Regions from separate parts of the Homo sapiens genome. Here regions 1, 2, 4 and 5 are each linked to region 3. The links come from fine-mapping of genetic effects on gene expression. A gene starts in region 3. Each other region holds a variant in brackets. All regions are shown on one strand. Distances are from middle to middle.

Region 1 (6,584 bases), 79 kb after region 3:
ACCAACAGGCATTTCTATTGCCTCTTTTATAATAAGTTTATTGAGATATTTATACTTTTCTACCTAGAGATGTTTTTGATTATCATCAGTGCTACAAATTGGGATAACTGCAGTAGTAGATCCCAAGAGATTTCTATCCTGATAATTGGGGGTGGGAGTAGATGTGTTTCTTAGTTGGAAGGCACAGTTAAAAGTAATTTTAGTGGGCACAGTGCATCCACCTATAGTCTCAGTCACTCAGCAGGCTGAGCTGGGAGGATCGCTTTAGCCCAGGAGTTTGAGCCCAGCCTGGGTAACACAATGAGACCCCATCTCAAAAAATGATAATAAATAAATAATAATTTTAGTTTCCCATTCACTTGATGCTTTTCATGATCAAGCGAAGGTTGGGCTAAAGATTCCAGTATTAGGAGGTTCCCAAAGACAGTTGAGAGTTGTATTTTCACGGGATCAATTTTCCTGGGGCTTAGGGCGATCTTAAAAGTCACAATCAGCTCTGAATTTGTTGCTACACAAGCAAAACTAAACTTATAAATCTGGACCCATTGCTATATATCACCTACATAACAAGATGGGGCCATGCAGTGGAGTAGAATAAGGTGACCATAACGGAAGAAGCTGTAAACATCTTACACTGGAAAAATAGTGGAATAAAGAGCAGTGTCAGAGAAAATAGGCCATGTGGTAGCTCCAACATTTATGTAATCATTTATTTTGCTTCCTTGTATCCCTAGCTAAGCCTCTTCTTCCTCTGTGTGTGTGTGTGTGTGTGTGTGTGTGTGTGTGTGTGTGTGTGTTTGGTTGTGTATCCTCTTCCTGATAAGATTCCCTCTTTACACCGGTACAATCAACTCCTTAATTGGAATTAGAATTTCTCTGTCTGGAATTTATACATATATCTTAGGATTGTATTTACCAGTAAAAAAAGCCCTTCAAGTTTACAAAGACTATATGGTAAGAAATCTAAGCTTAATTTTCCTTTCATTGCACTACTTGACTTACAACAGTAACCATGCAAATGGATTTATGCTTCAATGTGTAAAATGAAAGGACTTTCCTCCTTCACTTCGCACATGTACACATACACATCTGAAGGCATTTAGCAATGTGTCCAGCACAAAACAGACACTTAATTAATGTTACTTTCTGTTTCCTTTTGAAGAACAGTGTGTTAGCCACCTACACAACACATTAAGGAATTAATGGGCAAAGCAAAAGGCCAAGAGAGAATAGCTCAGTAGTTAGAAATATGAGCTTCGGTATCAGACCGGATTTTGAATTCTGGCCTTACCATTTAGCAGCTCTCTGTCCTTAGAAAGATCACTTAAACTCTGATTCTCAGTTTCCTCTGGTACAAAGTGAGGATAATACTACTTAGGCCATAGAATGTTTGTTAAAAGTAACAAGCTATTGCATGCATGCAACACACAAAGCACAGTTCCTAGAATATAATATGTACTCAATTATGAAAAGAATTTTAATTTCTTTTTAAAACGGCATACCCACTAATCATTAGAGTAAAACACAAATCAAAACCACAATGAGATGTCACCTCATACCCATTAGGATGGCCACTATCAACAAACCAGAAAATAACAAGTATTGGTGAGGATGAGGAGACATTTGAGTCTTTGTGTACCGCTGGTAGAAATGTAAAATGGTGTAGCTGCTCTTGAAAACAGCATGATTCCTCAAAAAACTAAAGACAGAATTACCATGTGAGGTAGCATCCCACTTCTGGGTATAAATACAAAAGAATATAAAGCAAGAGCGCAAAGAGGTATTTGTACACCTATATTCAATGCATCATTATTCACAAGAGCCAAGATGTGGAAGTAGCCTGAAATTCCGTTTATAAATGAATGGATAAAGGAAACGTGTCATATACATATTTAGCCTTTTAAAAAAGAAGAAAATTTTGTTATATGCTACAACATCGATGAACCTTGAAGACATTATGCTTAGTAAAATAAGCCAGTCACAGAGGAACAAATACTGTATAATTCCACTTATGTAGAGCTATGTAGAGTAGGGGAAACCACGGAAACAGAAAGTAGAATGGTGGTTTCCAGGAGCTAAGGGGAGGGTGAAATGGGAGTTGTTATTTGATGGGCAAAGGATTTCGGTTTTGCAAGATGAAAAAGTTCTAGAGATCTGTTACCCAATAATGTGGATACAGTTAACACTATTGTAATAGTGCACTTAAAAATGGTTAAGAGTATAAATTTATATTATGAGTTTTTCACCACAATTTTATCAAAAAAAATAGGGCATACTGAAAAAAAAAAAGTGCATCTTTAAGGATGTTCTCTCTAGCTCTTCTCCAACGCCAGAATACAGAATGAGGAGGAGAAAGGAGACATGAAAATAAAGAAAGTCAAAAACCATTTTTACCGTTCTTAAATTATGTTTATGGGATTCCTTCAGGTTAATGAGGAAAGAAAAATCTGTGTAACTGACAGCAAAAGCTAATTCGAAGCATCCTTTCTCCCTCAGCTTTGGGAATACTCAAAAGAGGGGACTAGAAATCACCCATTATAGATAAGAAAAGTCTGCGAATGTATTTATACAAATGCTTTGCCTTTGAATTGGAAGTAAGAATAGTTAAAAGAGAGGAAACAAAACTTTGAAAGGGAGGGAAGGAAGAAGGCACTGTAGAAAAATCTTACAGTTTGGAGTCAAGATGAGGAGTTTGAATCCTCTTTCTACTTGGTTATCCTCTCTGTGGATGACTTTGTCAGTAAAAATGGTGATGTTCATACTTTCTAACAGAGGTGTTGTGAGAACTAACTCAAGATATTATGTTTGAAATGTTCTTTTCATCTCATGAAACATAATCCACATTTTACTTGTGATTTTACAGACGGCAAACAGTAGCTAATTACCACCCCAAGGAAAAACAGTAAGTAATTTCTACCTTCCTGCTCACGGGGCTGTAATCATTTATATTTTGACACTTGTTGCTAGTCTTGTTAATGAATGTCAATATTAATTCAGTATGGGAAAGTGTGGGAAATTTCTATCTTCAAAGTGAAAATGTGACAACATACCCCCTGGGCATTAAAGGAAATAAAGCATTCTTACTAAAACAAGGAAGAAATTTAATGTTTCTTAAGGGCAAATAAGTATCTCAAATCATAGCTCAAGAATGTGACTCTATTCATGGTTCTCCCTTTTTCTACAGATAATCTAAAATATTTACAAAAGGTAATAACCAAATTCACTTCCAAAGACAAAGGAGGGAATTTCACCATGAAAGAGAGGAAATGAAAGAATTTTTGAACAATGAGGCTGATAGAACTATGGATTTTTTCCAAAAAGGAAATAATTAAATTTTTTTCCTTGGGGTTTTTAATTAAAGGTCCTCCACATCCTAAAGTATGATGGGGGTAATGTCCGTCGGAATACCTCTTGGAGTTAGTTCACAATACTGAGAATTAATGTTTCCTAAAATTGTGTTTCAGTAATGCTGCTTTCTATGTTTTCTTTTTTCTTGTATGTTGTAGCTTCAACAACAAAATACACTTAGTGGCTTTACTACTCTTGACTAACAGATTTGGGTGTTGAACAAGAAAAAACAGAAGAAAAATCTAAGTAGAACTCACTGGATATTAACAACCATGTGCCATTTTCTAAAATAGCTCAGACTTGTCTATAGCCTTGTTTCTTTTGTTTTGTTTTGTTCTCGCTCTGTCGCCCAGGCTGGGGTGCAATGGCACCATCTCAGCTCACAGCAGCCTTGGCCTCCTGGGTTCAGGCTCAGGTGATCCGCCCACCTCAGCCTCCTGAAGGGCTGGGATTACAAGCATGAGCCACCATGCCCAGCTATAGTCTTGTTTCTTGATCAGTTTTGTTTGTTGGTTTGTTTTATTGGCAAAGAGAACTCATCAGATAGGGTGT[G/GTGTGTC]TGTGTGTGTGTGTGTGTGTGTGTGTGTGTGTGTGTGTGTGTGATAACCCTTTCTCTGCTGGAGTTGGTTTACTTTACTACTGAAATTTTTAAAATATTTGATTAAATATTTTATATTAATATTTATTTTTGCTTTATTTTAACATGAAAATTCAACCAGTATAATTTGGGTGGGGGGGAGGTGCATACTTAATATTAAAAGCACTCGCTTATGATCTTAATGAGTTCATTAAAGGAAAGTTATTAAGTAATATTACCATAGTAAAAGTAAAGTAAGTAAATGAAAGTTCAGCTCTATCTTCCAGTGGTTATTGCTTTTATTAGCTCACAATGAACCAACATTAGCTTCTTTTGCTAGTGTCTCTGAATACTAACAGTAAAGCAGTTCTGCTGGTTTCCACTTCACTGATCTACTCTTGATTTACATCAACGGTGAACCTTTCACTTAGTTACCTCTTTAGACTTGCTTTCCACACATCCTGTTTATGTGCAGTCAGCAGGAAGAAAACAAGAATGTGGATATGAGCAGGAAGAGAAAGATGAAGAAATAAAATGCTTTCAGAAAAGTAGAAATTTCTATGAAAGTCCCCAGCATATTTTTTTTAAACACTGGAAACGGTCTTTGTGAATCATCCAATCTGACTGTTTGTTAGCTGTCATCCAGCAAATCCTTGAAGATGAGGAACTTGAACGTTTAAATAGAAGTCGATGACACATTCTTTGTCATGTTTTCCTATTTCTCTAACTAAAACAAGAGTTTGCCATGGAGATGTTCTTGAATTAGGCTTCACATCTGTGGCATTATGGTTTACAGAAATAAACCAGACTCCCTAGAATTGGAGTCTGGATTCTAGCTAGACATGACTGTCCAGTGATGTGACCTTGGGCAATTTTCCTTAATTCACAAGGCCTTACGTACCCTCTGGAGTTACCTAAAATCTCTACCTTTAGAGATTAAGGGATATTGAATTTCACAAGAATTCATAAACCCATAAACAAGAATTCCAGAGATGAAGGCATCAGATTGATTGCCCTATTGGATCAGGAAGAGGCAGAAAGCTCCACCATGAGGTGTGGGAATAAAGAGCAGATACAGTTGATTGAGGTTGAGCGTGTCAATGAAAGCAGAAATGTGGTGGGGTATCCTGGCATCTGTATACTGCTCTTCTTTACCCCAAGGACATTCACGGTTGGCTGAGATGCCTGGGAGTGACATGGCTTGAGAGCAGGTTTTTGAAGGATGAAAAGAGGATATTTGCCTAAAAGTGTCACCAGGAAGCAAAGAGAAAGCCATTGTCCTTGTACTTGGCAATAAAGTTCAAGAGTAAGACTATATCTGAGATTGCAAAGAAAGAATAGCAGGTTAAATATGGAGGCATGGACAACATTATAAAAAGTGTATCTTTGTTCAAGTAACACATACTCATTGTTGAAAAGTTAAAAGGTACAGATAATCACAAAATAAACTCACTACAGATAAGTGCAGAAAAAATAAGCACTGTGAACATTTTGCTGCACATCATTGCAGGCTTTTCATAGATAAACCTTCTGCAGGTGTAAAAAGTATCAGATTCAAATATCTGTGGGTTGTGCTTGCTAGACAACTCTTAAGCTGTGTATTGTTAAAATAAACCTTATATAATGTATTGTAGCTTATTGTGAAAGGGTCAAGAAATCAAGATAGCTGTTTCTCTTATTTCCATTAAAAATCTATTCATTTCATGTTAGGAGGACAGTTAACTTGTTACCAAGCAGAACTGTATTTAAAACAAATTCGAAAACTATTCATAACCTATATGTATTTAGTCCTGGTTAGACATAAAGCTTCACAGTGCTGTTTTATGCATCACATTAACCAGCTATAAAACACACAGGACTTTATCTATAGCAGACAGAGAATTTCAGGATTTATATACAGATACCCTACAAAGTCATGTGATTTTAAAATCAGTGTTTTATTATTTATTTATTTATTTATTTATTTTGAGATGGAGTTTCGCTCTTGTTGCTCAGGCTGGAGTGCAATGGTGCGATCTCGGCTCACCGTAACTTCCGCCTTCCAGGTTCAAGTGATTCTCCTGCCTCAGCCTCCTGAGTAGCTGGGATTACAGGCATGCGCCACCACACCCGGCTAATTTTGTATTTTTAGTAGAGACAGGGGTTCTCCATGTTGGTCAGGCTGGTCTTGAACTCCTGACCTCAGGTGATCCGCCTGCCTTGGCCTCCCAGTTCTGGGATTACAGGCATGAGCCACCGCACCCAGCCTTCAGTGTTTTATTATTAAGAACTATCAAGTTACTTGTAAAACTATTCTAATTAAAAGTGGGTCTAAATATTTTCCAAAAAATAGGTTTATGCTCTATATACTGTTTTTTAATTGAGGTGGAATTCACATAACATAAAATTAATTTACACTTTGAAGTGAACAATTCAGTGGCTATTAGCATATTCACAGTGTTGTGCAACCAGCACATCCATCTAGTTTCGGAAGCATTTCATCACCCCAGCTGGAAACCTGGTACCATTAAACAGTTGGTCTCCATTCCTCCCTCCCCCTAGTGTCTGGCAACCACTATTCTATGTTCTAGCTCTAAGGATTTACCTACTCTGGATATTTCATATAAATAGAATCATACAATGTCTGACCTTTTGTGTCTAGCTTCTCTCACTTAACATAATGTTTC
Region 2 (6,584 bases), 71 kb after region 3:
ATCTTGCTCAGCCTCCACAAATGCTTTCTGTGAATTTTTTTAAAGCAGTCAGACATAGAGAGAATAAAACAGTGATTACCAGGGTTGGAGTGTGGGATAGGAATTGGGAAGATATTAGGCCAAAGGATACAAATTAGCAAATATATACGATGAACAAATGGAAAGATCTAATATACAATGTGAGGACTATAGTCAATAATAGAATGTTATATTCAGGATTTTTTCTAAATGAGTAGATTATAGCTACTCTTGCCATAGGGGGATAAAGGAGTAACTGTGTGAGACGATGGATATGTTCCTTTGTTCCACTATAGTGACCTTTTTACTGTATATGTGCATCTTATAACATCATGTTCCATATCTTAAATACACATAATGATTTTTTTTAAAGAGTCAGCCTTTTCCAGGATGTGGGAAAGGATTTGCTTGCAGCAGCTAAGTAACATGACATACTGTACGTAGTTGTTGGCCAGGATAATTACACAGCAAATCACTTATGTGGAAAAATACTCAGTAGACGAATACAAAGAGACAGGAGCCACTTGATGAGCATAGCAAAACAAGCTGTGAAAAATAAATACACATACACACGCTCTGCTCTAATGTTCTTAAAATCCCCCCCGTCACACACTGCAGTTCCCTGTTTGGCCATCTCAGCTGCCCTAAAGCTGGCTAGAAAAATGATGGGCAATTAGAACGCTGCTCAGCAAACCAATTACAAAAAGAAATAAGATTAGAGTATGGACATGTTTGGAAGAAGATTTAGGGGAAATCTTTCTAGTTTGAAATGGTGAATATTAAAGATGGAGCAGTTCCCACAATCATTTGAGTCTATTTTTTATTGAAATTATAATAACAAATTAGCTTTGCTAATCTTATTTCATTTACTACAACAAACCCTATGAAATTTTTGCTGCTCATGGTATAATTGTCCTTATCTTTGAGATGGGTAAACCAGATCATTCAGAGTGATGTAAGAGGGATTTATCCAAGACTACATGCCAGTGAGTGGGAGAGCTCAAGGCTCAATCTCAGACCTTTTTTTTTTTTTTTTGGTGCAGTGATGTGATCATAGATGACTACAGCCTAGAACTCCTGGCCTCAACCACCCACAGTGCTGGGATTCCAAGTGTGAGCTACCATGGCCAGCCAATCTCACGTCTTCTGACTCCAGCTACTATGGCATTTCCGCGACACTATGCCTTTTCTTGCCAGTGATGAGTGAGGTCAGCTGCTATCCAGTAAACGAAATGGCTCCAGTTTTTCATTTCCTCTTGATTGTCTTGTCTAGTGGTTGCATTAAATCTGGAAGTACTTGGTCCTGTCTGCCTCCAGCCTACTGTTCCCCTGACTCCTGATAAGTGACTAAACAAAATGACAAGTACAAGGGGATTTCCAGTGCTACTGGCTTGTTTCTGTGTGGTCTTTGATTTTTCAAGAGTAATGAGCAAAAAAAAAACAGAAAAGAAAAAAGAAAAAAATGTCTCTTATATATGCCATCTAAATTTCTCTCCCTTTCTTTCCATGTGTACTTACATAGAAATACCAGTTGCTGTGTTTGCACAGCACCCAGCTGATAATAGCGAAAGCCTCTCATTCTTCACACCCATTTCCCAGGCTCTTTAATGTGGGCTCAAGGGAAGGGCACCTCCCCTGCAGTTTAAGCGTGATCCAAGTGGAATGATTCACACCAGGCCCTGCTCTTCTTTTCAATGTAAGTAAATCTGATGTGTATCTTACAGAAACTGTTATTGGCAAGAATTCCTCCCCTGTCCCACTCATGTTCTATATTCATATTTCTGAGGATATTCACAGATCTCTACCCATATTTAAGTTAAGGGAAGTGCATCTTAAAGCTTCTTAAATCTATGAGAGACCTAAGATCCTGGGCCAGAGACTGACCAGAAACAAGCAGGACATAGGGTCTGAAGAAGCACATTCCTCCCTCAGGTCCTCCGCACACCTTCCTTCCCCTTTGATGGGACAATCAGGAGGCAGTGTCACATCTGTCCTTACTGAGTTCTTGCTAGTTTTTTTTAAATCTATTTATTTATTTATTTATTGACTGGATTATGAGACCAGCTAATTTTTGTATTTTTGGTAGAGAGGGGATTTTTACCATGTTGACAAGTCTGGTCTTGAACTCCTGGGCTCAAGCTATTCTCCTGCCTCAGCCTCCTGAGTAGGCGGGGCTACAGGTGCATGCCACCATGCCCGGCTAATTTAGAGATGGGGTTTCACTATGTTGGCCAGGCTGGTCTTCAACTCCTGACCTCAAGTGATCCACCAGCCTCGATCTCCCAAAGTGCTGGGATTACAAGCGTGAGCCACCGCACCCAGCTCCATTAGTTTTTGAGTTTGTAATCTTAATTACAGTATAGTCATATAAACATTAGTTTTTCTTCATGAAATAACTGTGATTGAAAGTCGTTTCTTCCCCTGACTATACACTATGCTTTCAGGTTATACTTGTGTTTTGCTGTTGTTGTTCTTGCTGCTGATGCTTTATGGATTTCAAAATGACGGAAAAGGAAAACAGCATAGGGAAGCTGATCCTCTTCCACACCCAGAGGGCCATTCTGCTGCCTCTCTTCCAGACACAAAAGGAGACAGAGCAGACATTCATGTGGCTGAATTCCTAATTTTCCATTATAGCTGCCAGCATGTGTGAAAACAAGCATAAAAACCAAAGACTTACCTTAATCTTCATTTCAGTCTATTTGGCATTTCTTGCACTTCCAAGTCTGAGGGATGAGTTATCTACCACAGCTAGGAAAATTTATCTCTATGCATTTACATTTGAACATTTTTACCAACTAAATAAAAGATAGATTGCTCTTAACTACTGCAAAAAGATGATTACTTTTTTCTAATATATGACTAAAATTTCTGCCCTATCTAGTTTTTTACATAGAAAGGTTAATTTCTATGAATCATTGCAAAGATAAAAATAAATTTTGATTAAAAATATTTATTCAATGGAAATACTATAAAGGGAGGATTTTAATATTGTTTCTACTGATGTAACTTGTCTTAATGGAAAACATCAGTGGATCATGGCTTTGGGAATCTCAGACTCATAATAATTACCACCTGTTTTGTGTTTGCAACGTGCCAGACACGGTAGTAGAGACCAGGATTTCAGAAATAAGTTAGATGTAATTCTGTCCCCAAATAATTTATGCCTAATAATAAAAACAGGTTTATGTCCACTTTGGATGAAATGAGTTGCTCTCATTCTGTTGCTCAGGCTGAAGTGCAGTGGCACAATCTCATCTCACTGCAATCTCATTGTTCCAGGTTCAAGTGATTCTTGTGCCTCACCCTCCCGAATAGTTGGGATTATAGATGTGCACCAACACACCCACTAATTTTTGTATTTTTAGTAGAGACAAGGTCTTGCCATGTTGGCCAGGCTGGTCTCAAACTCCTGGCCTCACGTGATCCACCCACCTCAGCCTCCCAAAGTGCTGGGATTACAGTCATGAGCCACTGTGCCCAGCTGGAAGCCAAGATTTTAATGCAAAATAAGAATTATCTAGGGTGAAGCTACAATATTGTGAAGGGAGTACAGAGCTGGCTTGAGATTAGAAAGGTTTTCTAGAGAGGTCACCCTCTCTAGAGTCAGTTTCAAAGTTGGGTAATACCAAGTGATTAACAAATACATCAACAGTTAAGGGCAGTTTAGGTGAACAGACTATGTGCAGATCATCTAACATAGTCACTGAAGATTAAGTAAGAATAAGAAATAGGCCTTGCTAAGCACTATAGGGAGGGAAGACAACCTAAC[C/T]GATAATTATGTTAAGTATTATAACAGAAGCGAGCACAATGTCCAAAAACTGCATAGAGGCGGGTATTTCACTCAGCTCTGCAGATCAGAAAGGCTTCCCAGAACAGTAATGCTTTAGCTGAATCTTAATGAATAAGGATTTTTCCTGTGGTCAGAGAAGTGGGAAGGAAAGGACAGTTAAGGAGAGATTATACAGAAGATATTGGAAATGGAATGGATAATTTGTGCTCAGTCATTCGGCACTCACTATGTGCTAGACACTGGATGTTATCACAAGATGGGGTGGAGATTGATCTTGGACAAGACATACAGCAGCCAGATCATCTTTTTAAAAAGTAAATCACATCATTTTACTCTCCTATTCAACAACCTCCAAAGTGTGCTCCCCTTGCAAGCATAATAACTATTGTGGGTTCTTAGCATGACCCACACTGTCCAATATGATCAGTTCCCAAAAAATTTCGACAAGCTCACCTCCTGCCACATGCACTTACTCCCTCTGGCATTTTTTCTGTTTTGTAGGACAAACCTTTGGCTTCCCCAGGGGATTTTCTCCCTCCACCTGGAATGCTCATTCCTCATCATTTAGGTCTTAGCTCAGATGCTTTCAGAAGCCTTTCATTATCACCATATGAGAGTAACCCTCTTCCCCCAACGCCCTGCCTTAGACAATCTCAGTCTCATCTCCCTGTTTTTCGTTGTTGTTTTTTTTTCCTTTTTTTTTTTTTTTTTTGAGATGGAGTTTCACTCTTGCCACCCAGGCTGGAGTGCAATGGCACCATCTTGGCTCACTTCAACCTCCACCTCCTAGGTTCAAGTGATTCTCGTACCTCAGCCTCCCAAGTAACTAGGATTGCAGGCACTCACCACCACGCCCAGCTAATTTTTTGTAATTTTAGTAGAGATGGGTTTCACCATGTTAACCAGGATAGTCTCAATCTCTTGACCTCGTGATCCACCCACCTCGGCCTCCCAAAGTGCTGGGATTACAGGTGTGAGCCACTCTTAGGCCCCATCTCCATTTTACTCTCATAGTATTTATTACAATCTTAAAATGCCCATTTCTTTGTGTTATCTGCCTCCTCCAACAATACTCCACAGAAACAGAGATCTTATTTGTCTCTTAGACACTGCTCTAGCTTCAGCATCTAGAAGACTTGGCAATTATCTATTGGCTAAATGAATAAATAATGACCTTGAGAGTGAGTAAGCTGAGGGATGTTCATGATCACGAGAAGTGAGATTAGTTTAAAGAGCTTTCCTGGGTAAGAGTAAGCTCAGAGTAGGAAACTGAAAGGCGGATTGATGAAGATATAAATAATAATCCATGAGGAACTACATTATAAAAGTTTCTTTAAAAAGATTCTTAACATAGTAAGCATGACTGTATACATTGTGAGTATACAAACCTGGAAATTTATACCAGTGAATTTAAAATTGCATCTCTATAACACCATAAATCAATTTATTGTTTTGGCAAAGTATGGTAGCTATGCTGTCTCTTCTGTTGGAAGACATCTTTCAACTCATTATCTATTATTCTTTTAGCTACTGATTCTATGCCAGGCTCTCAATTATAGGATTCATGTGCTTAAGGAAAATATAGCCTGAAAGACCAAATCCAATCAAAGTAGGTAAAATATATACTGTCTGAAATTGCCTCACCATATGGCTTGAGAATTTCTCAACTAGCATTTATTTATGCATTATTTGTATGGTTTTTTATTTTTAAAATTTCCTTTTTTTCTTTGTTCATACCGAGTCCTGCACGTCTTATTAATTTTTTAAATAAAAGAAATACCTATGAGAAAGAGGCCAGGCATGGTGGCTCACGCCTGTAATCCCAGCACTTTGGGAGGCTGAGGCAGGTGAGTCACCTGGTTTCAGAAGTTTGAGACCAGACTGGCCAACATGGGGAAACACCGTCTCTGCTAAAAAAAACACAAATATTAGCTGGGCATTGTGCTGCCACCTGTAATCCCAGCTACTCGAGAGGCTGAGGCAGGAGAATCACTTGAACCTGGGAGGCAGAGGTTGCAGTGAGCTGAGATCGCGTCACTGCATTCCAGCCTGGGTGACAGAGTGGGACTCCATCTCAAAAAGAAAAAAAAAATACCTATGAAAAACAAAGACAACTTTTTAAAAACCTACTCTTTATCAAACATACATACCTAGGAATTTATCGTAAGGATAAAATTTAACAGAATTGAAAAGATAAGTGTGGCAATGTTAACTTGTTAACTATACTCTTATTTGTAAGAATAAAAACAAACAATAACAAAAGAAACTATGCATCAACTTGGAGGAGAATTCCGTGGCTTATAAAAATGATATCCCAAAAAACATAGAAAAATATTTATGATTACATATCAAATGAAAATAGCAGAGCCTGACATGGTAGCCTGCGCCTAGGATCCCAGCTGTTTGTGAGGCTGAGGCAGAAGAAGCGATTGAGGCCAGGTGCAGTGGCTTACGCCTGTAATCCCAGCACTTTGGGAGGCCAAGGCGGGCAGATCACCTGAGGTCAGGAGTTCGAGACCAGCCTGGCCAACATGGTGAAACCCTGTCTCTACTAAAGATGTGAAATTATCTAGGCATAGTGGAGGATGCCTGTAATCCCAGCTACTTGGGAGGCTGAAGCAGGAGAATGGTGTGAACCTGGGAGGCGGAGCTTGCAGTGAGCCAAGATAGATCGCGCCACTGCACTCCAGCCTGGGTGAGAGAGAGAGACTCCGTCTCAAAAAAAAAAAAAAATTGATTGAGCCCAGGAGTTTTTGAGTCTGCGGTGAGAGCT
Region 3 (6,584 bases):
TCCTGAATCAAAAAATAGAACATTACCATCATCCTAAATACCTCATGATTCCCTTCTAATCAATGCCTCTCCCCTACTAGAGAGAAGATTTCTATAAGCATAAGTTAGTTTTATTTATTTTTGTACTTTATACAAATGGACTCATGCAATATGTACTCTTCTGTATCTGGCTTTTTTCATCCAACATTATATTTGTACACTGTTTAATTTCATTCCCATTTAGTATTATATTGCATAAATGTGCCAAAATGTATTTATCTATTCTACTATTTATGGATATCTGGGTAATTTCCAGTTTGAGGCTATTATAAACACCACTGCTATGAACATTCTAGTAGATGCATACACATGTCCACATACCGAAGCAAGGAATTACTGGGTCATAGGATCTGCATATCTACAATTTTAATAGATACTGACATACAATTTACAAAATTGATTGAACCAATCAACACTCCCATGAGCAGTGTACAAGAGCTCCTGTTGCTCCAAATCCTCACTCACACTTGGTATATTCTGTCTTTTTAATTTTATTCATTCTACTGTTTGGATAGTAGTGTTGCAATGTGAATAAAATTTGTGATTCCCTGATAATTAATGATGTTGAGAACCTTTTCACCTCTTTTTCAAGGTATCTAAGTCCTCTTCTCAATTTTTCTATTGCATTATGAGTCCTTATTGTTTTAAATTTTAAACCATGTGATATGGTTTTAAAAAGTAAATTTAAAAGTAATGTAATTAACAATACAAATAAATTCCATGAAGTTCTATGCTTCATGCTCTCTCCTTCTTAGAGATGCATATTAGCATTTCAAAAGTTCTGAAAAGTTCTACATTTTTCACCACCACAAAACAGTTTAGAGAAATGTTGTCTCCCTTCTGATGTAATTTTCATGGAATTAACAATTGTCTCCTTTTTTTACTTGTATTTTTTTTTACAATTCATTCTCCAATTTTATCCCATAGTTCATTAGATCTATCAAACATCTATCAATATAATTTCTCAAATACTCAAAATTAGATAATCTATCATTTCAATTACTGTAACTACTGTTTTCTCTTGAAGTCTGCCATCTCCCTGTTCAGTGAAAATGGGTTGCTCTCCAATTCTGCCATATTTCTCTCATCCTGGAGTTTCCCTTCTTAATTTCCTGGTCCGGTTTTCTGGATCTCATGTCTTTCTTTTTCTTGGGCTACTCCCATGTTTTGCTGAACACATTCTCTAGGAGCTTTCTTTAAAAAAAAAAAATGACATGGAAAGAAAGTATTTCATTCTTGTATATGTGAAAATGTTTTTATTCTGCCCTTACATTTGACGGAAAGTTTGACTATAGAATTCTAAGTTGGAAGTTACTGTCCTTCAGAATATTGGAAAAATTTCACTTCATTATATTTCAGGATAACAATGACTTAGTAACATTGTTAAGAAATTCAATGCCATTCTAATTCCCATCTCTTTAATTTTTGTTTCCGCCCTCTGAAAACGTTTAGAATCTTCCCTTTAGTGTTAGTGTTCTCACCCTTTTAATGATGTATGTGCCTTAATGTAGGTCTTTTTACTTGGTGGGCCCTTTAAATATGAAGACTCCTGCCCTAGCAAAAATTTTTAAATTATTATTTTGATCATTTCTTCCCTGTTTATTTTTTGTTCTCTTTTTCTAGGACTCAGGTTTTTAATTAATTGACTGGATAAACATGTCAGGCCTCTGAGCCCAAGCTAAGCCATCATATACCCTGTGACCTGCACGTATACATCCAGATGGCCTGAAGCCACTGAAGAACCACAAAAGTGAAAATAGCCAGTTCCTACCTTAACTGATGACATTCCACGATTGCGATTTGTTCCTGCCCTTCCCTAACTGATCAATGGACCTTGTGACACTCCTTCTCCTGGACAATGAGTCTCAGGAGCTCCCCACTGAGCACCTTGTGACCCCCACCCCTGCCCGCAAGAGAAAAACCCCCTTTAACTGTAATTTTCCACTACCTACCCAAATCCTATAAAGACTGCCTCACCCCTATCTCCCTTTGCTGACTCCTTTTTCGAACTAAGTCGGCCTACACCCACATGATTAAAAGCTTTATTGCTCACCCAAAGCCTGTTTGGTGGTCTCTTCACACTGACGCGCGTTAACAGAATGAATGGATAGAAAAGTCTTCTGAGTACTTTTTAAGAAAAAAGCTTATTGGCCGGGCGCGGTGGCTCACGCCTGTAATCCCAGCACTTTGGGAGGACAAGGTGGGCGGATCACGAGGTCAGGAGTTCGAGACCAGCTTGGCCAACACGGTGAAACCCCGTCTCTACTAAAAATACAAAAATTAGCTGGGTGTGGTGGCGGGCGCCTGTAATCCAAGCTACTTGGGAGGCTGAGGCAGAAGAATTGCTTGAACCAGGGAGGCAGAGGTTGCAATGAGCAGAGCAGAGATCGCGCCACTACACTCCAGCCTGGGTGACAGAGCACGACTCCCTCTCGAAAAGAAAAAAAAAAGCTTATTAAGCAATAAAGCACAGAGTATCAGACCATATGTTTAGTGCTGAACATTTTATTATAAATGATCAAAAATGTTTAACATACTATTGTTTACAACCTCCCACTACTGTAAAATCTAACATTGCTACTTTCATTTCAGGTAATGCAAAAATACAAGAAGCATTAGCTGTCTGTAGGCAGAAATCTGTTCGAGTCATTCCTTATTACTGAATCCCTAGAATTAATTAAACATCTAGTATGGAGTTGGTATTGTATATAACATTTGCACTCACGTCTTACAAAATAGTCATCTAAGTAGAAAGGTATTCAAGGCAGAAGGATGGAAAAACGTTTGCAGTCTTTTTTGGTTGGCATGAAACACTGACTGCATTCCTCCCAGATTTATAAGAAAGAAATATTTGCAGTCTTACCTGGAGTTAGATGGATGGACTCTCTCAAGGTTATTTTTCAATCTCTGCACATACATACTTATGGAAGTAAGAAAGAAGAGGGAGAAAAGGCAGATCCCCCATAACAGCGGTTAAACACCTGAACTTGCTCCACTATGACAGGGTTTATCATCCACCTCTCAGTCCTCAAGTGGCTGGAAATATGGAAATTGGAGTCCAGGTAGACAGGTGAGTGTACAACCTCTTAAGTGTGGAGCCCTCGGAATTCACAACACTCCCCAAATCGCTTCCTGCGCAGGCGCGGAGTCGGAAGGGAGTCGGAAAGCAGACCCCGGTGCCCCCTAATAAAGCCCCCAGCCGGACGCTGCCGCTACCGGGGTTTGGCAACTTCCGGAAGACCTGTGGCCCAAAGGAGAATCCTGTTGGGGGAGGCGGGGGCCGGTGGTCGCTAACCAATCCGACACCCGCCAGCAGGCTGAAGAGAGGGGCTTTCCCAAAAGGAAAACTTTCCCAAACCTGGGGGATGGGAAGAGAAGACAAAAGGAGCTCCCTTTCCCACTTCCCAGCCGCCCGTCCCAGCCCTCGGCCTCCGCTGCGCGACCCGGGCGGAGGATCCCGGCCGCAGGCCGAGGCGAGAGCCAGGCGGGAGGGCCGCGAGCGGGCTGCCCCTCTCCCCGCCTTGCCGTCCGCCGCTGACGTAACCTGCGAAGTTTGGGGAGGGAGGAGCTCGGGCGGCCGGAGCTGGTCGCTGCGCGCGCCGGGGGGAGGGCCGGGGCTGCGAGAGAGGAAGCTCTTTCGCGGCGCTACGGCGTTGGCACCAGTCTCTAGAAAAGAAGTCAGCTCTGGTTCGGAGAAGCAGCGGCTGGCGTGGGCCATCCGGGGAATGGGCGCCCTCGTGACCTAGTGTTGCGGGGCAAAAAGGGTCTTGCCGGCCTCGCTCGTGCAGGGGCGTATCTGGGCGCCTGAGCGCGGCGTGGGAGCCTTGGGAGCCGCCGCAGCAGGGGGCACACCCGGAACCGGCCTGAGCGCCCGGGACCATGAACGGGGAGGCCATCTGCAGCGCCCTGCCCACCATTCCCTACCACAAACTCGCCGACCTGCGCTACCTGAGCCGCGGCGCCTCTGGCACTGTGTCGTCCGCCCGCCACGCAGACTGGCGCGTCCAGGTGGCCGTGAAGCACCTGCACATCCACACTCCGCTGCTCGACAGGTAGGCAGTCACTGGGGTTCCCTGGAAGAGCCCTCAACTCCTGCATCCCCTCAAGCCCCCTGACAAGCGGGCTCTAGAGCCCAAATGGCAGTGACCGCTTGGGGCCGGCCTCACCTCGTCACCTCTAGGGAGCCCTTCAAGCTTGGGAGATAGGGAGCACCCACCCTTCAAGCTCTGGCACCGTAGGGAGCACAGGCTTCTCTGGAGATGCAGCAGTTGCATTCCTCCACACATCTCTCCATTACCCTTTCTCTCCTTCCCTCTTACTCCTAGGCGTTCTGGCTCCGTACTCCAAAAATCAGCAATCACTGCCTAACTCTAAACGCTGGGTTTACTGAAATTGATGTGTGTTTATATATAGTGGGTGTGGGTTTTGTTTGCTTTGTTTTTTCCTTATTTTTGAAATTGGGCTGTAGGGCTGCACTGTCCAGTAGGTAGCTCTTAGCCACAGGTGGCTATTGAGCACTTGAAATGTGCCCGTCCGAATTGAAGTGTGACCTAAGTGTAAAATACCAGAGTTCGAATGCTTAGTATTTATTAAAAAAAGAACTTATAATATTTTATTATTTGTTTATTGATTATATGCTGAAATAACATTTTTGATATCTTGGGTTAAATATAAGATTAAAATTCATTTTATGTGTTTCTTTTTACTTTATGTGGCCACGAGAAAATTTTAAATTGTATGTGGTGGTGTTCACATTATATGTTTATTGGACCGCACTGCTTTAGAATCAAGGATGTTTTGCTTCTTATTGTTTTTATTTTGGTTTTGGTTTATTATGTGTTGTCAGGAACGTTTTATATCAAACTCAATACTAGCAGTTCAGTTTCTCCCAGTCTCAGTTTCTCTCACAGGGAAGATTAAGTAGAGGAAATGTGTGCTATTTTTGCCACAATAAATTGAACCAAAAGACTGTTAAATGGCCAGAAATTGTAAATGGCTTTCACTTATTGGTTTGTACAGGTTTTAAGGGAAGGTTAGCATTAGTTTCTGTTTTCAGAAGAACATTACAACCGCGTGCCATAGACCTGTGACTGTGTATTAGTCAATGGGTCACTAGTCTTGTGTATTTTACTTCCTACAGGGATTTAACTAGGCCCAGCATTCAGTTCTTAGTGAGTTAACATCCATGATTACAACATTCTCTTCTCCTCCTCCTATATCTAATGTGAAAATACGTCATCCCCGATGCCTGATTGGCCAGAAGCTGTGAGTATCCAGCATCAGATAAATTCCTCAGCTTCCGCCCTGCCAAAGTTACTGGATTTTCACCTGCCTGTGGCTTTTCTTCATTGTCTCTCACTGTCAGGCTTCGATGGCCTAAATGGCACAGGAGATTTGGGACACTTCTAGAGCTTGTTTCCACTTCTTGTCTATCATAATCCAGATTCAGTGATATACAAGGTGTGGTGTCTGTTTACTCCAGGCCTTATATTCTGTGGAGCAAGTGCTGGACAAGTGTGTATATGTGTCTGTAGTCAACTTTTAAGGGTGGTGGTTGGTTAGAGAGGGTGGATATATGTTAGAACCAGTTATGCAAACACTATATGGAAATGTAGCACTGATGGACCCATTAGGTATTGAAAAGCCAATTGATCCTCCCACTTTGGGTGCTGCTTCTCAGGATTTTGATTTATCTAAGCTTTGTGCAGTTTGGGGACCAAGAAGTGAAGAGGGAGTTTCCTTCCCATACTCATGAACAATTTTCATAGTCTAAAATTCTTCACTGAATTGGGTAGGAAATTAATTCTGTCTTCGAGGAAGCCATAAGACCAGCGAAACACTCTGGCATTTACTGCATCACATTCTTTTCTCCAATTTGTTACTTAAGATCTTATCATTGCAGTATTTATGTAGTCTGAGCATTAGATGAGGCTATGCAGTTGACTCACTGGTGTCTCTTTCCTCACTTATAAAATACGAATAATAAATACATGTGTTTCTCGGACTATGGAGAACAATGTTTGCATTGTTCTTTGGGATGACCTGAAAAAAAATAAGTTTATGCAATGTTACATGCTCTTATTTTAATGACTGGTGAATCAGTCTCCATAACCTGACTTCTATCCGATGAGTGGACCTTCCCCAACAATCTTCCCACCCCTTATGAGTAATGAGTCCAATTGGTTGTTCAAATACCCTGTAGATGACATAACTTTTCTGATTAAATTTTTGAGTTAATTTTGGTGATGTGACTATGGAAGCTGTACTTTACACCTTTATTTTCAAAATGTAAAAATCAATTTTTAAAATCTTTTGGCTTTAAAAAAAATTTCCCACTCACTCAATCTTGCCAAAAATCTACCTTCAAGAACTTTCCTACTATATTCTTTGATCAAGCAATAGGGTAGAAAGAATGCAGGCTTTAATGTCCCATGATTGCAATTCAAATCTGACGCCAACCCTGCCACTTATTAGTGTGACCATTAGAAAAGTATTAATTTTTCTGAGCCTTAGTGCCCTCATTTATAAAGTGGAGCTAATGAAAC
Region 4 (6,584 bases), 40 kb after region 3:
GAGGCAGGCAGATCATGAGGTCAGGAGATCGAGACCATCCTGGCCAACATGGTGAAACCCCGTCTCTACTAAAAATACAAAAATTAGCCGGGTATGGTGGCGTGCGTCTGTAGTCCCAGCTACTCAGGAGGCTGAGGCAGGAGAATCGCTTGAACCCGGGAGGCAGAGGTTGCAGTGAGCCGAGATCACACCACTGCAATCCAGCCTGGGCGACAGAGCAAGACTCTGTCTAAAAAAAAAAATAAAACAATAAAAAATAAAAATAAAAATTGATTTCCTTGTAGTATATATCAACTCATCCTGATTACAAACCTTGGAATATTTTATGGGGTAAATCTAATCCCTCTTCTATGACAGCATCTTATATATTTCCAAGGAGCTCTTTTATTTCTGGTGATTTTTTTTTTCTCTGCCTCAGAATAATTCCTACTTACTTCAGTGGTTATTTAAGTGGCATGGTCTATATTCCTCTCAAAGTATGGTAGCCACAACTAAACATGGTGCTCCTACTCAGGTCTTGCCATCACAGTTGGGATATCTGCTCCCTTATCCTTAAATAAAATGCTAAAGCACCGTTTTATAGTAGTCACATGTCATTGTCAAATTAATATTTAACTACCAGCTAACAAATTCTTCATCTGTACACCTGTGTTGTTTTGCCTTATTTCTCCACTTTTCAAATAGGTAAATTGGATTGTTAGGCCCATATATAACAATTTGCCTTTATCTCTCTTTTTTTTTTTTTTTTTTTTTTTGAGACGGAGTCTCGCTGTCGCCAGGCTGGAGTGCAGTGGCACGATCTCGGCTCACTGCAACTTCGGCCTCCTGGGTTCAAGCGATTCTCCTGCCTCAGCCTCCCGAGTAGCTGGGATTACAGACACGTGCCAACACACCCAGCTAATTTTTGTATTTTTAGTAGAGATGGGGTTTCACCATGTTGGCCAGGATGGTCTCAATCTCTTGACCTCATGATCCTCCCTCCTCGGCCTCCCAAAGTGCAAAGTGCTGGGATTAGAGGCATAAGCCACTGCACTGGCCTATCTCTATTTTTTTTTTAATTCATCCCTAGTTCCAGTTATTCAATACATTTTTTATCCCTAAATCTGGAATCTTCCAGCTTGTCATCCACAAATTTGACAAACCTACTTTTTATAGTTTCATCCAAGTTACTAATTAAAATGTCGATTGTGCTGAGCCATTCAAGCATGAAGTTTGCAAATTACCACAAGCCTTCTTTCCTTCAATTTGACAAAGCTCATCACTATTTAACTACAATCATTCATCTAATCACTAATGAATATAATTGGAATATTTTAAAGAGTTTCCTTTTTTAACATAAAAAATATGGAATCTACAAATTTAGCCTACATGGTCTCTATATCTGGGCAGTTTTTTAAAGAATTGGCTTGTGTTTTCATCGAAAATGTGTGTTTCAATATAAATCCACTTTTTTTGCTACAAGTACATTCAGTTATTAAAATGGGGCATGCCTCTTCTCTTAAAATATTAAATGGATATTGCTCAGGCTCTGCTTATAAAATCTGGTGCAAGACACTCTCTGTCCACCAAAATCCCATGATTTAAGGATGCCAACCAAATAAAGAAACTCCAAATTCCACATCTGAAAAAAAAATACTAAGAAAATTAAAGAATAGACAGAAGATAATTTTAAAATACTTACATAATACCCTTAGAGAGACTTGTTATCTTCAAAACTAGGAGAAATTGTTAAAAAATAGAAGCAACTAATGATCTAGAAACATTTAAACTATGATTCTCATAATAATAACCCAGAACCCATCCATTCTTGAAAACTGTCCTTTTTCTCACTAGGACTCCTAACTTGGGAGTTTGTTAGGGTAGATAACCAGTCCAAGCCTCTAGCTTCCATATCTTTGGTTGATTCCTTTTTGGATGTATTTAGCAACCCTGAGCAAACAGGGAAGCTACCAACAAAATAACTGCAAGTACTTTTCATTGCTAGTTTGAAGTCTCCTGCCCTCACTAAACACATGTTGCTGAGCTTTTGCCTTCTCACTGTGACTGATGCACTCCTCATCATACTAAGAGATGCTTAGGACTGGCAGGATGCCCATCACCTTTGTTTCCACCAGTGCCCCTTAGTGGAATGGTACAAAGTCTAAAGGGGCAAGAAAAAAATTTTTTGAAAAATTAACTCTTTAGTGTTTTGGGCACAGCCTGATCACAAACACATGAGATATATTTTGCATAGGCCTCCCGACAAAGTTAAAAGGACTCAAAATTCCGAATTAATTTCGACTCCAGAAGAGAGTTAATAGTTTTAGAATTTTAAGCTCATTAATCTAACTGAATTCATTCTAAGGAATATGGAAGCTAGTACTGGGAGCCTGGTCCCAAGACAATGTTTTAATTTTAATTGTTTTTAAATTAGAAGAAAAAAATGAATATATAACAATGAACAGTTTAGATTACATATATCTTTATAATAATGCAATTGTAAAAAATAATTTTAATATCTTTTATAGAGGACAGAGCCACAAAAGCATAAGTGCCTATGTCAGAGGTGTTTGAACCAGAGCAACTCCATTTTGAATAGGGGCTGAGTAAAATAAGGCTGAAAACTACTGGGCTACATTCCCAGGAGGTTAGGCATTCTTAGTCAGGATGAGACAGAAGGTTGGCACAAGATACAGGTCATAAAAACCCTACTGATAAAACAGGATGTGGTAAAGAAGTCAGCCAAAACCAAGATGGTGACAAAAGTGACCTCTGTTCATCTTCACTGCTCATTATATGCTAATTATAATATAATTATAATGCATTAGATTGCTAAGAGATACTCCCACCAGGGCCATGACAGTTTACAAATGCCATGGCAACCTAGGGAAGTTAGCTTATATGGTCTAAAAGGGAGAGGAATCCTCAGTTCTGGGAATTGCCCACCCCTTTCCTGGAAAACTCATGAATAATCCACTTCTTATTTAGCATATAACCAAGAAATAACTATAAGTATACTCAGTTGAGCAGCCCATGCCACTGCTCTGTCTATACAGTAGCCATTTTTTTATTCCTTTACCTTCTTAATAAACTTGCTTTCACTTTATGGACTCACCCTGAATTTTTTTCTTGCACAAAGTTCAAGAACCTCTCTTGGGGTCTGGATAAGGACACCTTTCCAGTAACACCTAGGGCCCACGAATGTCCTATTGCAGCTCTGATTGTGAAATGACTTACCTGACGGTAGTCTGAAAAGTTTGCTTGAGACTGTAGCCACAGCAAAAGTTGACCTTACAAACTGGGTCATTCTTGTCACACCCAACTAAAACAGCGCAATCAGACCACGTACCATTGCTCCAAGAATGTAATTCTCTGCAAGCTTGGCTGCTGAGACTGCCTGCTATAACCTGAAACCAGTTTTATCTAAAGGCTACTGAAACAATCTACTGCACCTCTAAGACTAGTTTTACCCACCACCATCACTCACCAAAAAGCTTGCTAGCTCCCCAAAACCTTACTTGAGCCAATGAACTTTCTAGAGTAGTGGTATGTAATGTTTCTCCTTTTTATAAAAGCTCTAAC[C/T]TTCTCTTTGTTCTTTAGATATACCAAAGACAACCCGGTCTGTGTGTATGCCCCTAGTTGCAATTCTTTCTTGCCAAATAAAATATTTTAATTTCAGAGATTCATCTTTATATTTTATTTGACTTTGACAGCACTAATCAGACACAGTACTCCAGAGGTGCTAGGATAGGGGGCAAAGGGCAAGGAAACTGAATAGTGGCAGATTGGGCTTGTCCATGTCAGGAAGGACCAGTGGCCCACAACACTAGCATGTAGAGGAAAAAGCAAGTAGAAACACAATGAATACTGCAGGTTAAAGGCGTGGCCCTCAGAGCTTGAGCATTCTCACCTTTCCACTTGCCAAGACCCTGAAAAAAGGCGGAGATTCAGACTTCCCACCAACCCTTTCAGGTTAGAGCCTGGGCCACATTCAATTTAACTTAGAAACATAAATAAATCTGTCTTGTTCCTCAGTGTTATAGGCAAAATCATGCCTGATATATTGACTGGTATGGTCTTGTTTATTACTATTATTGCTTTAGGTTGTGTATTGACTGGTTGCCCCCAAAATGATCTGCTGAAGTCCTAATCCCCAGAACCTGTGAGTGTGACCTATTTGGAAAGTGGGTTTTTACAAATGTCATTAAATTAAAGATCTCAAGATGAGACCATCCTGGATTAACTGGGTGTGCCGTAAATCCAGTGACAAGTGTCCTTATAAGAAGAGGGCTGGGCATGGTGGCTCACGCCTGTAATCCCAGCACTTTGGGAGGCCAATGCAGGCAGGTCACTTGAGGCCAGGAGTTTGAGACCAGCCTGGCCAACACGGAGAAATCCCATCTCTACTAAAAATACAAAAATTAGCCAGGCGTGGCAGCGGGCACCTGTAGTCTCAGCTACCCAGGAGGCTGAGGCAGAAGAATTTCTTGAACCCAAGAGGCAGAGGCTGCAGTGAGTTGAGATCACACCACTGCACTCCAGTCTGGGCAACAGAGTGAGACACTGTCTCAAAAAAAAGGAAAAGAAAAAAAGGAGAGAAGACACAGACAAAAGAAAAGGCCATGGAAGGCAGAGGCAGAGATAGGAATGGCACAGCCACATGCCAAAGAATGCCTGGAATCACCAAAAGCTGGAAAAGGAAAAGGCAAAGGACTTTTACCCCTCTAGCCTTCAGAGGGCGTGTGGCCCTGCCAACACCTTGATTTTGGACTACAGACCTCCTGAACTGTGAGAGAATAAATTTCTATTATTTTAGGCCACCAAGTTTACGGTAATATGTTAATGATAGTCCTAGGACACTAAGATACTTCATTTTTAAAAATATACTTAATTTTTTAGAATAGTTCATGATTTCTTGAAAGATTGAAAAGCTAGTGTAGAAAGTTCCCATATACTCTGCACCCAGTTCCCCCTACTATTGACATCTTCCATGAGTATAGTGTATTTGTTAAAATTAATGAACTACTATTGATAATATAAAATAAAAAATCTCAGAACCCTCTAAATTTATCATGCCAAGGGGGAAATTAAGCTCTGGAGACTGAGTCATGAAGCATGTTTGCAATTAGATTATAGATTAACTCTCTTGCTCATTGTTCTTGTTCTGTAAATGACTAGAAGAGACTAGAGACCAGACCTTTCTCCACTTGCAATTACTGATCTTTGTTATAGATTAACTGCCTCCTTTATTGTTCAATACCTAACTCAGACCAGATGGTGCAAAAGACCCCATAACTATTAGATTCTCAGTGTGAAATGTTAAATATACCTCTGAAAATAGGTAATTGGAAATCCAAGCTGTTGGAACTCTAAATTACTTTGAACCTTAAAGAAATGTGAGGTTATGGGGACTGAGTCATGTGACAGGCAGCTGTAACCTTTCTTGCTCTGATTATAGATTAGCCTTCCTCACCTACATTGTTTTCTAAAATGTTATATATTACTAAAGGGCACCAGGGAAGACCCCTTCCCTCTTCCCTGTTGATCTTTATTATAGATTAACTTCCTCTTATCTTTCTCACAAAAAGGCTTTATGGTTATCACATTGTCTTCAGATGGAATATTAAAAATACTCTTTTAAATTGGAAAGGACATGAAAACAAGCTGTATGGAAAACAAAATGAACTATAACTAATTAAATGTTTATAACTCAAAAACAAGCTTTGTATAGAAAATGTTATATATAATCCTACTCTATTTTCTGTCTATATAAGAACCTTTAACTTCAGAGCCCTGACCCCATTTCTCTGGAGTCTGTGTCTTTTAAATAGCCATTCCCAGCTTTTCACTTTAATAAACTCTTTATAACTTGATTCTGATCCGTTTGACTGTTTCAGCTTGACGTGCCTTTCCTGAAAGAAAAATACCACCTCAACAAATCAGATCATTGTAACTATACATTAAGCCTAACATAGGAAGGTGTTGATATTCTGCTAAACTTCCCTAAACTTTGTGAATATGAGTGAAAACTTCTATACTTTGGAACACTGACTTCCATTCTTTAGAATCTGTGCTTCCCAAGAAGCCCGGCTTCAAACTTTGCACTTGAATCAACTCTGTTTAAACTAGATTCTGAGTCAGGCATGGTGGCTCACGCCTGTAGTCCCAACACTTTGGGAGGCTGTGGTAGGCTAATCACTTGAGACCAGGAGTTTGAGACCAGCCTGGCCAACATGGTAAACCCCATCTCTACTAAAAATACAAAAAAAAAAAAAAAAGTTAATCAGGCAATCCCAGCTACTTGGGTGGCTGAGGCAAGAGAATTGTTTGAACTCAGGAGGCAGAGATTGTAGTGAGCTGAGATCACACCATTGCACTCCAGCCTGGGCAACAGAGCGAGACTCGCCTAATGTCTTTTTTCTGCTCCAAGATCCCATCCAGGATGCTGATGAGGTGTGGAAAATGATTCCCCAGCCTGTGGGGCTTGGGCATGCTGAGTGCTTTTGAAAATTGAAAGGCCCCAGAAACAAGGTCCTGTCTAACCTTGTGTTGTTTCCCCAGCCCACTTCACCTCCCAGGACAGGAAGGGACTCTCTCTGGAGTTT
Region 5 (5,672 bases), 250 kb after region 3:
TGACACCATTAGACAATACAGTTTGAGAAGGAGAAAATGAACTCATTTAAAAATTAATTGTAATCTGACAATTTTGAAATTCCTTTGCTGAAGAAAAATATGGAAGTTTTGAGGTTCAGGGTTGGGAGGCAAGAGAGGTACCTGTTAGTGTGGTTTGTCCCCTTCCTAGCACATGTAGCCTCAAGTTTGAATTCCTGGGAGAAGAAAAGTCTTTACATCTGTGATGTGGGAGGTTGTTCCAGGGAACATCATGTTTTTGTGGGCAAATACAAGTTGTTATAATTAAAACCCCTAATTTGAATATTTTTGTTACCAAGAACCAAGGCAAATGTTTAATTTGTTATAAAACCTGTTTGTGAAGTGCTGTGTTAAATTGTGCTGCTGGCTAATAGGCCTCATTTCAATTTAATAAATATTTATTGAGGACTGGCTTTATGTCTGGCCCTGTGCTATGCCCTGGGACTCAAAATTTAAAAAATACGAGCCCTGCTCTCAACTGTTCTCAAGTTGCTCTCAGTTCTATTGAGGAAAACATTCAGTCATTCAGTTGTTTATGAGGAAACACTAATTAATTAAGTACCTATTAAGTATTGGGCATTCTTTGGCAATTTGTGGTTGAAAGACATTCCTGCCTTCAATGTACTATAGTCTCATATATGTATTTTAAGCCACAAATAATAACCAATGAGTAGGCCTTGAAATCAATTTAGTGGAGCAAAACAGCACTTTGGGAGGCTGAGGCGGGTGGATCATTAGATCAAGAGATCAAGACTATCCTGGCCAACATGGTGAAACCCTGTCTCTAGTAAAAATACAAAAATTACTGGGTGTGGTTTCACACGCCTGTAGTCCCAGCTACTTGGGAGGCTGAGGCAGGAGAATCGCTTTAACCTGGGAGGCAGAGGTTGCAGTGAGCTGAGGTCGCGCCACTGTAGTCCAACCTGGCGATAGAGTGAGTGAGACTCCATCTCAAAAACAAAAAAATGGAATAGAATAGGATATATCTAAATTCATCTCATGTAGTAAGGTTGTTCATTTTGTGAAACTTTAAAAAAAAAATTTACCATTCTTCCTTTTTTGATTCATTCTTTGATTACTATCATGCACACTGCCATGTTTCTTTTCCTTTTGTTTTTATCAAGAGTAATAACTATCCAACCTGATCAACATGGTGAAACCCTGTCTCTACTGAAAATATAAAAATTAGCCGGGCGTGGTGGCGCGTGCCTGTAATCCCAGCTACTCAGGAGGCTGAGGCAGGAGCTACTCAGGAGGCTGAGGCAGGAGAATCACTTGAACCTAGGAGGCAGAGGTTGCAGTGAGCCAAGATCACGCCATTGCACTCCAGCCTGGGCAACAAAGTGAGATTCTATCTCAAAAAGAAAAAAAAAAAAAAGAATAGTAACTATCAAGAGTAAAATCACTATTTTTAGAAAAATGATTCCTGGCCAATATTCAGCAATACAGTTAACAAAGTAAGATATGACCTCAAACTGGCCACCTAGAATTAACTTGGGTTAGCATTTGGTGTATATCATTCCAGGCATCTGTTCTGGTAAAAGGATGGATAGGCATAATTTTACTTGGATGTCACATTTTCCCTTAGTCAACATTGTTTCATTGTTTTCTCACGATGAATATTGTCTTGGAGCAGTATAAAACCAACTAGATGTGTTTTCTTTATTTTTTTTAAATCTGGAAGCCTAAGTATTTCTTTATTCAGTGTAAAATTCTGGAATATAAGCTCTATGCAGGCAAAGATTTTCAACTGTTTTGTCCACTGTTTATACCTAGAACAGTGCTTAGCATAGAGTAAACATGTAACAAATATCTGTTACATGAATGAACGTGTGTACTGTGTTGCTATGAACATGTGTATGTTGCTATATAAATCACATTTCTTGCTATGGTTCACAGTCAGAAAAATCTGAAAAATGATAGTCTAGTGAGTCACCAGCAGACATCAATAGACTGTGAAGATGCAGATGTGTATTATAATGCATATATGACCCAAACTGTACATACCTAGAGGAGGCAAGGAAAGCTTCATGGAGGAGGTGGCCCCAGGAGCCTGCTGTTAAATCAGGAGTTGGAATTTGTGTGGTCCCAATGGCAATATAGACCTAAGGAATAGCATGTATCAAGAAGTGAAAGAGTGGCTTATTTATAAAAATTCAAGTGGTTTGTTTGGTATTGTGGAGTTGGTGAAGTATGGGAACAGAGAGAAGCGTGTGGAGACGAGATCAGTCAGGTTGCTGGGGGACAGGGTATGGTGGGCTTTTCTTATTTATGTAGAAAATTGAGCATTTACTATTTGCTAGGCACCTTACTAGGGATATGAAGGTGAGAAGAAGAGCTGATTCCTGCTGTCAAGAAGCATAGAGTCCAATGGCATTATGGTATGATGTGCCGCATGTTAGGTTGGGTGTTCTTGCTTTTGGATGGGATCCCAAATAAATAGCATCCGTTTTTTCCAGTCTGAAAAATGAGTAAAGATGGAAGCCAAAGTATCACTTTTATTGTGGTTTGTGAGAGGAAGCTGGGCCTATCAGCTGGATCTCCCGAAGTAGGCGGACTTACATAACTCTGGAGGAGGGCAGAACATTGTCCTCTGAAGGCAGCTGGCTCCCAAAAGGAAGAAGACCAAGGAGAACTGTTCATACCCAACGATCCTGTCAAAATTTACCAGTCATATCAACTGTCTCTGCACAGACAGATTGTACCTCAGTCTGTGTTGCTATAAAGGAATACCTGAGGCTGGGTAATTTATAAAGAAAAGGGTTTGTTTGACTCATGATTCTGATGCCTGGACAAGTTCAAGACTGGGCATCTGCATCTGGTGACGGCCTAAGGCTGCTTGCACTTGTGGCAGAAGGTGAAGGGGAGCTGGAGTTTGCAGAGATGGAAGTGAGGGGGTGTTGGGAGGTGCCGGCAAGAGAGGAAGTGAGAGGGTGTTGGGAGGTGCCGGCAAGAGAGGAAGTGAGAGGGTGTTGGGAGGTGCCAGGTTCTTTCACA[A/G]CCTGCTTTAGTGGGAACTAATAGAGTGCAAACTCACTTGCCACTGCCAGGATGAAGATGGTACTACGACATTCATGATGGATCTGCCACCATAACCCAGGCACCTCCCATTAGACCCCACCTCCAACATTGGGGATCACATTTCAACATGAGTTTTCAAGGGACAAACATCCAAACATCCTTAGCAGGTTGACTAAGGGGACAGAAAGAAGCCTGGAGTTGTACTACCTGAACTTCTCACAGTAGGGAGATGTCAGGACTGGGGAAGAAGCATCTCCTGCTCATGGGGGAGGTATGTCCAGTTTTATGAGAGTGTTGTTGTTTGGTATATATCAAAGCTGAGACCTGAAAGATGAGTAGGAGTTAGCCAAAGGGAGAGATGTAAGAATGTTTTAAACAGGAGAGTAGTCTATGTGAAGGCCCAGCATAAAGGTTATCAACAGAGAGTGGGGAGGCAGGAGGTGAGAGACAGCTTAGTGAGCAGCCTGTTGGCTGCGTTAAAGAGTTAGAACTTTGTCCTGCAGGGTGGGAGTGGAGACAAATGGCTAAACCCTGAGTAATCCTCTCATCTGTTGAGAGGTGATGGTGGCCTCAACGAGGGCATGCATTGGGTTTGGAGACACTCAAAGTTGAGTGATATTTAGGAGGTAAAATCAGAGGCCTTGGTGATTGGTTGGTGGTGAGGATGAGAGATGGGGCTATGCTCAGTGGTGACATGTTGCCATCAAAATTGTGAGCAGAAATACGATATCATCAGGTAAGACTGGAAGTAGGGAGACCAAACATCCAAACACCAGTGATGAGGGTCTGAACTGAGGATAGCATTAGAGCTACTGGGGACTAAAACGAACTGGGCTTGGTTTGAATGTATGGGGTAAGATGAAGCCCAGATTTCTGTCTTTGGCCCCTGAGCTAAGGACAGTGCCACTCTCTTGAGTGAGGACATTAAGTGGGGGCTGGAGGGAGAAGAGGAGTAAGTGACATCAGTCCTGAAATGTCAGTAGGGTCTGGGACTCCTCAAGTGGTATATAGATAAATAAGCTACAGAAGTAGAGGAGAGAATGTTAATTCTCCCTGGGAGTGTTAGGGAAAGCACCAGAGCTCTCACAGCTGGGTTTCAATGATGAATGTTGGGTGATGATAGGGAGCAATTTGTGTAAAGACAGGAAAGTAGGAAAGAGTTCATGTTTGGGGAATCCTGAGTACTTTGTTTTCCTGAGTGTAAATTTCAGGGGAGATGAGGCAGAAGAGAGGGACAGGAGCTAGGTCGTGAAGACATATGCTATGGGGAGCGAAGGAATCTGGATATTCTGCAGCTACCAGGAGCCCTTAGAAGATCTTAAGAAGAGAAGTAACATGATCCCATTAGCAGTCCTCGGAAGATCAGTTAAAAGATGACACAGAATAGGCCCCCAATGTTTGTGAATGTTGTGAGATAGGGGTTTGAAATCAGGTGGTGGATATAGAGGGACACTGGGGAGGTAAAAGGCATGGGGCTTATAGACGGATGGGATGTATCAGGTGAAGAGGAGAGGGAGTCACCAAGGTGGGGCAGGGCAGGGCAGGTGGTGGGGGTGGGGTTAATGGATGAATCTTGGCCTTGTAGCTTAAGGATGCATTTGAAGAAATTTCAAACAAACTTCCTGCCCAAACTACAAAGCAAACTTTATATTATTACAAAAAATAATCTAGATCTCAGATATCTCCCAAAGGTCATGATAATGACATCAAAAGAGGGGGGAATTTTAAAGTTATCCAGAGTTTCTTACAGCCCATGGTAGAAAGCATGCAATAGATGTTTAGCAACTTTTAGTTTTTGCAGAAAATTCTAGGTAGAAAATGATCAGCATTCTCAGCTGTCCTGCGCTCTTCTCTTCCTAAGTTGATGAATCATTCTGAGATTGAAGTGCCAGGGTAATGATAAGTAAGTCTAGAATACAAGGTCAACTGCACTTTTATCCCTTCCAGTCTGGGAAACCCTCACACTGCATTGTAACATAAAAGCAGTGATAGAACTGTAGGCTTTCATAATTGCTGGAATGATGAAATGATGTTGCCATTTACCTTTAGCCCTAATTTATTCTTCATGCTTCAAAACCATATTTCCTACTGCAGCTTAGATATCTCTACCTGACTATTCCAGAAGCATCCCAAGTGCAGCATTTCTGATGCAGAACTCATTATCCTCAATGCTCCAACTTGGTCTTCTCATGTCAACCCAGTCATTTCAGTCAGAGCATCACTCTGCATGCAGCCACTTAAAACTAGAACTCAGTTACCTTCCACAGCTCTCACCTTACTTGCCAGGTCTGGCTGGTTGGGTTCTGGGTTCAGGCTAATTTACATGTTAAATGTGTGTGGAATATGTTGTCTTCTCTTAATTTCTACTGCCCTCGGTATCTCTCATGTACACTTAATGACTTCTGTCTGATGAGTCTCCATTTCCTTTTTTCTGGCTCACATTTAAATCTTAATTTTTCTAGAACACAAAGGCAGTGCAGATGTAACAGGGATATTGAGGTAAAGATGAGAGAGGTAGAAAAATCTCTCTCAGTTCTTTTCAGTAAACAGGAGACCTGTTTATATGCTGTTAATGAAACAGGCAAAAATGTGATGAAATAGATCAAGAACAAAAGTCCAAGCTCATGTTGTTGGGC

Which allele goes with the higher level. Alleles are on the strand shown, and positions count from the first base shown. SD is a standard deviation of normalised expression in the study named. Not every link is listed here.
In carriers of allele G in region 1, the expression in neutrophils of the gene that starts at base 3,674 in region 3 tends to be higher than with GTGTGTC alone (large effect, 0.83 SD a copy in CEDAR).

Evidence for each region. PIP is the estimated chance that this variant, and not a neighbour inherited with it, causes the effect. A credible set is the group of variants that fine-mapping cannot tell apart.
Region 1: its variant is the best candidate, but not a certain one, in a credible set for the expression of RIPK2 in neutrophils (CEDAR, PIP 0.60).
Region 2: its variant is the best candidate, but not a certain one, in a credible set for the expression of RIPK2 in whole blood (TOPMed, PIP 0.52).
Region 4: its variant is the best candidate, but not a certain one, in a credible set for the expression of RIPK2 in whole blood (TOPMed, PIP 0.90).
Region 5: its variant is the best candidate, but not a certain one, in a credible set for the expression of RIPK2 in whole blood (INTERVAL, PIP 0.70).

Annotation. Positions count from the first base shown.
Region 1 is chr8:89,832,680-89,839,263 of GRCh38, forward strand. No RefSeq gene overlaps it. Among named protein-coding and RNA genes, the nearest start is that of OSGIN2, 67 kb to the right of the region's middle. RefSeq lists an enhancer at 4,469-4,568. The variant G/GTGTGTC (reference allele first, on the strand shown) is at 3,901.
Region 2 is chr8:89,824,978-89,831,561 of GRCh38, forward strand. No RefSeq gene overlaps it. Among named protein-coding and RNA genes, the nearest start is that of RIPK2, 70 kb to the left of the region's middle. RefSeq lists an enhancer at 1,279-1,408. The variant C/T (reference allele first, on the strand shown) is at 3,791.
Region 3 is chr8:89,754,143-89,760,726 of GRCh38, forward strand. It overlaps RIPK2 (receptor interacting serine/threonine kinase 2), which reads left to right and starts at 3,674. Exons shown (of 11, transcript NM_003821.6): 1 at 3,674-4,091. The coding sequence starts at 3,919. It overlaps PARAIL (palmitic acid regulated anti-inflammatory lncRNA), which reads right to left and starts at 3,569. Exons shown (of 5, transcript NR_125822.1): 1 at 2,903-3,569. RefSeq lists a silencer at 3,420-3,539 and enhancers at 4,080-4,149, 5,428-5,517.
Region 4 is chr8:89,794,333-89,800,916 of GRCh38, forward strand. No RefSeq gene overlaps it. Among named protein-coding and RNA genes, the nearest start is that of RIPK2, 40 kb to the left of the region's middle. The variant C/T (reference allele first, on the strand shown) is at 3,562.
Region 5 is chr8:90,002,971-90,008,642 of GRCh38, forward strand. All of the region lies in intron 1 of DECR1 (2,4-dienoyl-CoA reductase 1), which reads left to right. Among named protein-coding and RNA genes, the nearest start is that of DECR1, 4.3 kb to the left of the region's middle. RefSeq lists enhancers at 2,646-2,955, 3,116-3,175. The variant A/G (reference allele first, on the strand shown) is at 3,016.